Regions from separate parts of the Homo sapiens genome. Here region 1 is linked to region 2. Evidence: fine-mapped expression QTL. A gene starts in region 2. The other region holds a variant in brackets. All regions are shown on one strand. Distances are from middle to middle.

Region 1 (4,395 bases), 34 kb after region 2:
TAGCTCCATTACAATTATAGGTTCAAAGCCATCTCTTAAATAGACGAAAATTATCCTGAATTACAGCTGTATAACAACACTACCAATTCTCTCGTTTATGTAGATGAAGAACTGGTGGATGTTTCTGCATCTGTCTTACCAGAATTGAAAAGAGAAACATATGGCCAGATTCAAGTCTGTGCAAAACAGAAGCTGGCTCGCCATGGTTCTTTTAACACAGTTCAGGCTTCTGAGAGGATCCAGAGGAAAGTGAACTCAGAACCGAGCAGCCCGTACAGAGAAGAACAAGGTATCTGCCCTTGCATAATCTATGGAGTCCATCAGTTGCCATGTAGCTGTAGCCCATGCCAGTGCAGCACCCACGTGCTGGCGTTTTAAAACAAACTGACTCTCAGCCCTGGCTGTTTTTTCCAGTGGTCTACTTTTTACTTAGCTGAAGTGAAACAATTATTGGAAGCAAAGGAGATGCTGATATCACAGTCTATGAACATGACCCCTTGCCTAAAATTGATCCTAGTCACCTTGTAGACCAATTGGTTTGGCATAGTTGACCCTATTTGATGTATCTCAGAAATTCATTAGACTTAAAGCAATGCTTGTTTTAAATACTTCTTTTTTCTTTTTCTTTTTCTTTTGAGAGAAAGGTCACTCTGTCACCCAGGCTGGAGTACAGTGGCATGATCACGGCTCACTGCAGCCTTGACCTCTCAGACTTAAAGAGTCCTCCCACCTCAGCCTCCCAAGTAGCTGGGACCACAGGCGTGCATCACCATGCCTGGCTAATTTTTCGTTTTTTGTAGAGACGGGGTCTCCCTGTGTTGCCCAGGCTTATTTTGAATTCTTAATGAGACCTGAATTCATGAACAGCTAGCTACTGAAAATTTCTCTTTGAATCAAAACCATAACAGATTTGAGTAATCTTTGAGCTGAGAATAATGAATTCTCAGCTAGATAATTCTCAGTATATAGTTGGTATGTATAAGTCTCTTGCTATATTTGTTAAGCCTTCATCTTCCTTTTCAGGATCAGGTGGCTACTCTTTAGAAATTGGAAGCCTGGCAGCTGTCTATAGACAGAAAATAGAAGACAATTCACAGTAAGTAGTCTATAAAAGCTCAGAGTGTATTCTTTTCTATCTCCTAGTGTTAACTTTGACTAAATTGCAGTGCCACCCATCAAAAGAAAAAATTTAGGTCAGCCGTTTATTTGTTAGGAATTGGTAAGTTTTCTCTTTGTGCCCTACACTGTGCAGGAAGTAGCATCAGGGATACAAAAGTATGAAAAATGTATCCTGTAAGCTATGATGGCTTATAGGAACAAGATAAAAAGACCAACACGGAAAAGAGACAATTCATAATTAACATGACCCTGAGAAATGAAGTATCAGAGTTCCATGAATCACTTCATCATTATCATAGTTGGTTTTGCCACTAACTACCAGGTACCGTTCCAGGAGCCTTAGTGTATATTGACTCATCTGATCATAAGAGCAATCCTTTGAGGTTTTACAGAGAGGTATTACCCTCATTTTACAGAGAGGAAGCTGAAGTGCAAAAAGGTTATGTAACTTGCCCAGTCACATTGCTAATAGGTGACAAAGCTGGGATTCATACCCAGGCTGTCTGACTTAAATTTGGGGCCCAATTTTGAAAGAAATCATGTGTCACCAGAGAAAGCAGAAGAAACGCTAAACAGAGTAATTAGAAAAGTGTTTAACAACAGATGTGGGAAGAAGCAGATTACAAGGCAGGGCCAGGGAGCAGAAGATACCAAAGCCTGGCTCGTTTTGCTGTCATGGTTTGTCCAAACAGGACAGGAAAAGGAAAAATCATTCAGCAAAAGAGGTTAGGTGTTGGAGGCAAGTAGGTCAAGTTGGCAAAAAGCTTTGAAAGCCAGAGAAGAGTTGGATTCATCAGGGAAACCATAAAGAGCTATTGGAGGTTCACTGATGAAGATCATCCTGGCTACTTTTTGCAGGTGGGATTAGGAGTAGAGAAAGACAGGCCACAGAACAGAGCATTTGTAGTCGTTCTGGTCTGCTGTAGGGCAGAGCTGAGCTGTGCTCACCAGAGGTGGAAAGAAAGGGAAACCAGTGTGAGACAGTGAGTTGGCAGGGCTCGCTAAAGGAGACAGGCATCAGAAAGAATGTCTGCATGTCAGGTGATAGTGATGTCATTGGTGGA[G/A]ATGGAGAAGTTGAAGGTGGATGGCTGGGTGGAGGGATGGTGGGTGATATACCCAGGGTGGGCATGTTCAGTTTCACAGAGCTGAGCAATACCCATTACTCAACCAGAGGCAGCTGATTGGAGAGATGACTCATCTCTGCGGCCCAGGGTACTGCATTTTATTCTCAGCAGCGCAGTAGGCAGTGAGATGGTAGGCAAAACAGGTCTTCCATGATTCCATCAGAAAGACGGAAAGAAATCCTGGTCCTCTGTTTACTGTTTTTTTTGTTGTGTGTTTTTATTTTGTTTTGTTTTGTTTTCTGCTTTTTGCTTTTTCTTTTTGGAGACAGAGTCTCACTCTGTTGCGCAGGCTGGGGTGCAGTGGCATGATCTCAGCTCACTGCAACCTCCGCCTCCCGGGTTCAAGCGATTCTTGTGCCTCAGCCTCCAGAGTAGCTGCGATTACAGGCGTGTGCCACCATGCCCAGCTAATTTTTGTATTTTTAGTAGACACGGGGTTTCGCCATGTTAGCCAGGCTGGTCTTGAACTCCTGACTTCAGGTTATCCACCTGTCTTAGCCTCCCAAAGTGCTGGGATTACAGGCGTGAGCCACCACGCCTGGCCCTCTGTTCCTATTTCTTAAAGGATCGTTCTTCTCTATTCCTAAAAATATACTAAGAACATAAACATGGTTTTAAATATTTGGAAATTTTTCCAAACAAAAGGCCCAAACATTGTTTATATCTTATTTATTTCATTTTCTTATTTTAGAGACAGGGTCACCCAGGCTGGAGTGCAGTGGCGTGATCGTAGCTCACTGCAGCCTCAAACTCCTGGGCTCGAGCAATCCTCCTAGGCCCCCCACAGGAGGCATGAGCCACCCTGCTGGCCTATAAACTTGTACATTTATGGGACTTAATTTTGATTGTGTGCTGCCTAAAATTTTGTTAATAACACCGAGCAGAATGGGACAAGAATGACAGAAAATAATAATTTAGAAGATAAGTTTGTTTCCTCACTGTCCACTTCATTTCTTTCATACTGGATTTGTGAAATGAGACAAATGAGATTAATCTTTTTTTAAATCAAAGTCCAGTCTCTGTTACTCTCCCAGCGTCTCTCACAGTCACTGAGAACATGGGTTTTGCCATCAAACAGATGTGGGCATGGGGCCCAGCTTCTCACTTCAGAGCTGGCTCACCCGAGGCAGGGTGATCAACCTCTGCGCTTCAGTCTTCCTCGCTAGTAAACTGGGGAAATGAGAGTAGCTATTATTATAATAATTGCATAAAATTGTTATACTATTAATGCTAATTATAATAGTATGTACATGCCTGGCAAGGGTGTAAGTGCTTGATAATTGATAACTATCAGATGTGGAAGAGATGAAGGAGGAATGAATGTTCACTCTCACCTGAGATTCCAATGGCTCTTCCCACTTCGGCTCTCCCACCCCATCCTAACCATTTATCCAGGCCATACCTGGGCGTCTAACTCTGGGATGAGCTAACACGTGCTCAGCAAGTGCGCTTTCGTATCTGCCTGAGGAGTATTATCTCATTCTTGATTTGGCATGGCTGTCTTTGGGAAAGTAAAGGGTCAGGAGTTGGTAGAATGTGCTAACTTCGTTACGTTTCTTTTTTATTATAGGGGAAAAGCCTTTGCCAGTAAGAGAGTGGTGCCTCCATCAAGCAGCTTGGACCCTGTTGCTCCTTTCCCTGTCCTCTCTGTTGACCCAGAATATTGTGTTAATCCTTTAGCCCACCCAGTATTTTCTGTTGCTCAGACGGACCTGCAGGCATTCTCCATGCAGAACGGTCTGAATGGACAAGTGGATGTCTCACTTGCTTCTGCAGCCTCTGCTGTGGAGAGCCTGAAGCCAGCACTCCTTGCTGGCCAGCCTCTAGTGTATGTGCCCTCTGCCTCACTGTTCATGCTGTATGGAAGTCTGCAGGAGGGACCAGCGTCAGGGTCAGGGTCAGAGAGGGATGACAGAAGCTCAGAAGCCCCAGCCACAGTAGAGCTGTCATCTGCACCCTCAGCTCAGAAGCGCCTCTGTGAGGAGAGGAAACCTCAGGAGGAGGATGAGCCAGCCACTAAAAGGCAAAGTAGGGAATATGAAGACGGCCCGCTGTCGCTTGTCATGCCCAAGGTAAGGGAGTGCAGGTGGATGTGTCTGGTGACATCCTGTTAGCCCTGAGCTTCTTCCTAATGAAGATACACTGATATTAA
Region 2 (4,395 bases):
CTGTACCGTGAAACTGTCTAACCTCAAAGAAACGATCATTAGTATTTTGAAATATCAGAGAAATGAATGGACTTTAATAATTTGAATGTTGGTCTAGAAGGCTGAATGGTGGGCCCCAAAAAGGTGTATCCATGTCCTAATCCCCAGAACCCATGAAGGAATGTTACTCTGGAAAGAGGATCTTCCCAGATGCAATTAAATTGAAGATCTCAAGATGAGATCATCCTGGACTATCCAGGTGGGACCTAAATTCATTGACAGGTGTCCTCATAGGAGACACACAGGAGAGACTTAACAGACAAAAGAGAAAGCAACGTAACTATGGAGGTAGAAATTGGAGTGAGGCTGCCACGTGTCAAGGACTGTTAACAGCCACCAGAAACTGGAAGAGGAAAAGGACAAGAGCCCCAGAGGGAGTGTGGCCCTGGGAATACCTTAACTTTCCAGAACTGTGAGAGACTAAATCTCTGTCCTTATAAGCCAGTTGTAATTTGTTACAACAGCCATAGAAAATGAATACTGTTGGGAAAAGTATTTCCTTATCTAAACTTCTGCTTCCACATATGTGCAAAATTTAATAAGTTGCAATTTTTTATTGTTTAAACTTCTCATTAGGTTTCTACCTACAAAAGAGATTTCAGTTCAAAATGTTATTCCTATAAAAAATGTCAGATTTTTATTACTATTTTCTTTTGTTTAATGTTTTGCATACTTTTCTCTTTTCAATGTATGACCTAGCAGTGATTTTTTTTTTTTTAGGCCGTATTTACCAGCAATCTAGAGTACGAAGTGAAGGACTTGATTGAGCATTCTGAATTCTGCTGAGAGTTCATTTAAAATATATGTATTTGAGGCCGGGCACGGTGTCTCACACCTGTAATCCCAGCACTTTGGGAGGCCAAGGCAGGCAGGCAGATCACCTGAGGTTAGGAGTTCGAGACCAACCTGGCCAACACAGCAAAACCCCATCTCTACTAAAAATACAAAAATTAGCTGGGCGTGGTGGCGCACGGCTGTAGTCCCAGCTACTCGGGAGGCTGGGGCAGAGAATCGCTTGAACCCAGGAGGTGGAGGTTTCAGTGAGCCGAGATTGGGCCACTACACTCTAGCCTGGGTGACAGTGCAAGACTCCGTCTCCAAAAATAAAATAAAATAAAAATATTTGGAGGGTAAGTGGTGAAGAATGGAGTCTTGGTATAGAAAGGAAAATGATACCTTTGCTGTAAAGTAGATGGGGGGTAGGGACATGTCTGTACATTTAAGAATGTCTGATGCTTTAAGAAGGCTGTCTCACATTTCAGTTGAGGGATATCTTACAAAATACTTGACCAATACTACTCAAAAATGTCCAGGTATCAAAAATGAGGAAAGTATGAGAAACTGTCATAGCCAAGAGGAGCCTAGAGACATAGGAACTAAAGGTAATGTGGTATCCTGAACAGAAAAAAGGGCCATTAGGAAAAAATTAAGTAAATCTGAATAAAGTAATGACTTGAGCTCAGAAGAATGTACCAATATTAGATCATTAATTTCAAAAAATATTCTATACTAACACAAAATGTTAATAGTGGGTGAAATTGGGTGCTGAATATATGGGAATTCTTGGTACTATCTCAATTTTTCTGTAAATTGAAAACTTCTAAACAATAAAGTCTGTTTTGTAAAAAGTCCATCTCTACCAACATTCATATTTTAAACAAGAAACTGTAGGATGAAAGAAGTGAAACATTTAATACAGATCAGTGGTGTTGAGGAAATTTTCTAGACTGTCTCCCAGAATGCTAGTCCCTATTGCAAAGAACTACTTTTTTATATAAAGCTTTTTCCCTCCTAATTATTTGCAATTTGCCGAAAAGGGAACACCAAAAAACATTTCCGGATTTGCCACACACACAAAACAAACAAACAAAAAAAAGTTAGAAAAACTTCTGGTTTGGCTTCCAGTCTTGTCTCCAGGGCTAACTGGCGTGCCATCTGCTCGCAGCAGAGCGGTAACCATGGTTCATGTGTCACACCAGCGTGCGATGTTAAGAAGTTTGCCCCGGCAAGTCTGGACAACTCCGCTTCCGCACAGGTTGCTGAGGGCGGGCGGGGATGGCGGCAGCAGCATCCAGAGGGTGTAGATCGTTCTTCCAAACCCCATCTGCTTTCCTGTCCTCTGGCTGTGCCCGGGGTCCCCGGGCGCGGCAAGCCGCGGGGACGTGCGCGGGTCTTCTATGCATAACAAAAGAGCCCTCCTCCTCCTCTTCCTTCTCCCGCCGCCCCGCGCCGCCCCGCGCCGCCCCCACCTTGGCTTCCCGCGGCCGCCGGGGCCCGCGTCCCCAGCAGGAATTGGCTCCCGGGCCCGAGGTTTCCAGGTACCCGGAAGGGGGAGGGGGCCGAGGCGGCAACAATTGGGCGGGTGAGGGCAAAACGCGCGGCTCGGAGCGCCAAGACTCCGAGGGGCGGTGAGCCCGGGCCGTGCCGCCGCACGATTGGCCGGGGCCGCCCCGCCGGCCGCCGCTGATTGGTGGATTCTCAAATTCGGTCTCAAGGCGCCAGAGGAGGTGTTTTAGCGGGGACTACGATCCAGGCTGGAGTTGCGCTCGGCCGGTCTGAGCGCTGGCGCTGCCCGGACGCCGCGGGGTCCCCGCCAGCCCAGGGCACTCGGCGCGGGGATCTGCGCGCCTCGCTCTCCCTTCCCGATGCCGCCGCCCGGCTGCTGATCGCCGCACCACCTTCCCTCATCGGCTTGGGTCCGTGGAGGTCCCTGCAGAGGCAGGAAGCCTCCTTAGGAAAGCAGGGGTAAGCGTGCGGCCCCAGCGCCAGTGGGGAGGCGGGAATTGGGATACAGGGCCCACTCCCGCCCCGGCTGCCAGCCTGCCACTCCTCACGTCCCCCGGCTGGCGAGGGCTCGAGGTGTTTCTGCCGGGGAACCCGGTGCGCAGAGGGTGTGCCGGGTGCAGCTCTCACTCCGGCCCGGCAGTAGAGGGGATTTGCCCTTCCCCACAACTTGGAGCTTTCATTGGAGAAGTTTATTTGGGGGATCTGCTTGGAGGCCTGGGAAGGGGCTGCGCTCAGCGCTGAGTGGGTTTGGTCTAGCGATCGGGTTTCCTTCCCCCGATTCAAAACCCCTCAAAGCCGAATTCCTCTCAGTTCTTTGCGCCAAAATTAACTGACCTGGGAGACCCTGTACTTTTCTGACAGATTTGCCCAACACCCTTCCGACTTGGTAACTTTATTTTGCCATCTAGCTTTTCATAAGGAGTTACTATTTTTGTAGATTTTTTTCTTCCCAGATTTTCAGTATTACTAAGCACACTTTAGGTGTTTGAGTTTGTTCGCGTGAGTTTTAGAAAGTTGAGGGTGGCTACAACTCCTGGAAATGCCCAGGATGTGCTTAGAGAAGGGGGAATTTCATATTGACAAACAAGTAACACATATGTAGATATTTTTGTTTGAGGAAAAAATACCTAATTGCAAAATCATTTTCTAGTGTAATTGTGCATTACAGATGGAGGTAAATTGTTTAACACTAAAAGACCTGATCAGCCCCAGGCAGCCCAGACTAGATTTTGCAGTTGAAGATGGGGAAAATGCACAAAAGGTAAGCAAACATAAACACCTTAGTTTCTAATATGTTAAGGATGGTGATGTTGAATTCAATTAAGTGTTCCAACATGCCATTTGTATTTGTATTTAAGCATAATAATTAATATTGATAAACATTATAGAAACATTCTTTTTTAAAAATAGAGCCATCCAAACCATTATTGTTGGAATTCTACTCTCAGATATAGTGGGAAAAATAGGCAAGGTTACATGTAATGTTGTAACCAATTTATATAAGTCAAAAATATGCTGGCTACAGCAATCAAAGTTTATAATACAGTTGTCAAGGGTGGTGTAGCTAGTGCTCTGTAGGAATGCTAAGCCTCAGTTCCCAGGAAAATAGACCTTTGCAGGCATAAATGCTGGATTATTAAAGTGCTGTGAAATGTCTTCATACCAATGAACTAGCTCCCAGAGACTGTTCCATTCACCCAAGAGTAGACCTGTGCCTACTATATAGGGAGATAAAGTGGCTGAACTCATCAGTATATTCTGAATATTTTACCATACTGTTGCTAGTTTTGCACTGAGCCATTCCCTTACATTTTGCACCCCTTGTGATTTGTAAGACCAAGATGTTGTTTTCAAGAACATTACAAAGTAAACTGGCCATAACAATGTCTAAACTATCTGAGCATTTTTAGGCACAGGCAAATAGAAATAACAAACCAAGTTTTAGAAACTTTGAATATAAATCTGTGAGTAGCAACTTGGGCATTGAACTTCTCCGAGCTCCTGGTCTTATTTTTAGGCTTAGCATCAACAGTGAAACTCCTTGGTTGCAAAGCAACCCAGGCTCATATG

Alleles and levels. Positions count from the first base shown, and alleles are read on the strand shown. Sizes are in standard deviations (SD) of each study's normalised expression.
As copies of G replace A in region 1, the expression in monocytes of the gene that starts at base 2,560 in region 2 goes down (large effect, 0.88 SD a copy in Quach 2016).

What was found. PIP is the estimated chance that this variant, and not a neighbour inherited with it, causes the effect.
Region 1: its variant is the best candidate, but not a certain one, in a credible set for the expression of E2F7 in monocytes (Quach 2016, PIP 0.87).

Annotation. Positions count from the first base shown.
Region 1 is chr12:77,029,751-77,034,145 of GRCh38, reverse strand. E2F7 (E2F transcription factor 7) reads left to right here. Exons shown (of 13, transcript NM_203394.3): 8 at 104-289; 9 at 1,024-1,096; 10 at 3,814-4,315. Among named protein-coding and RNA genes, the nearest start is that of E2F7, 34 kb to the left of the region's middle. RefSeq lists an enhancer at 895-2,094. The variant G/A (reference allele first, on the strand shown) is at 2,184.
Region 2 is chr12:77,063,734-77,068,128 of GRCh38, reverse strand. E2F7 (E2F transcription factor 7) reads left to right here and starts at 2,560. Exons shown (of 13, transcript NM_203394.3): 1 at 2,560-2,784; 2 at 3,494-3,586. The coding sequence starts at 3,494. RefSeq lists enhancers at 1,941-2,170, 1,906-2,612 and silencers at 2,221-2,650, 2,671-2,720.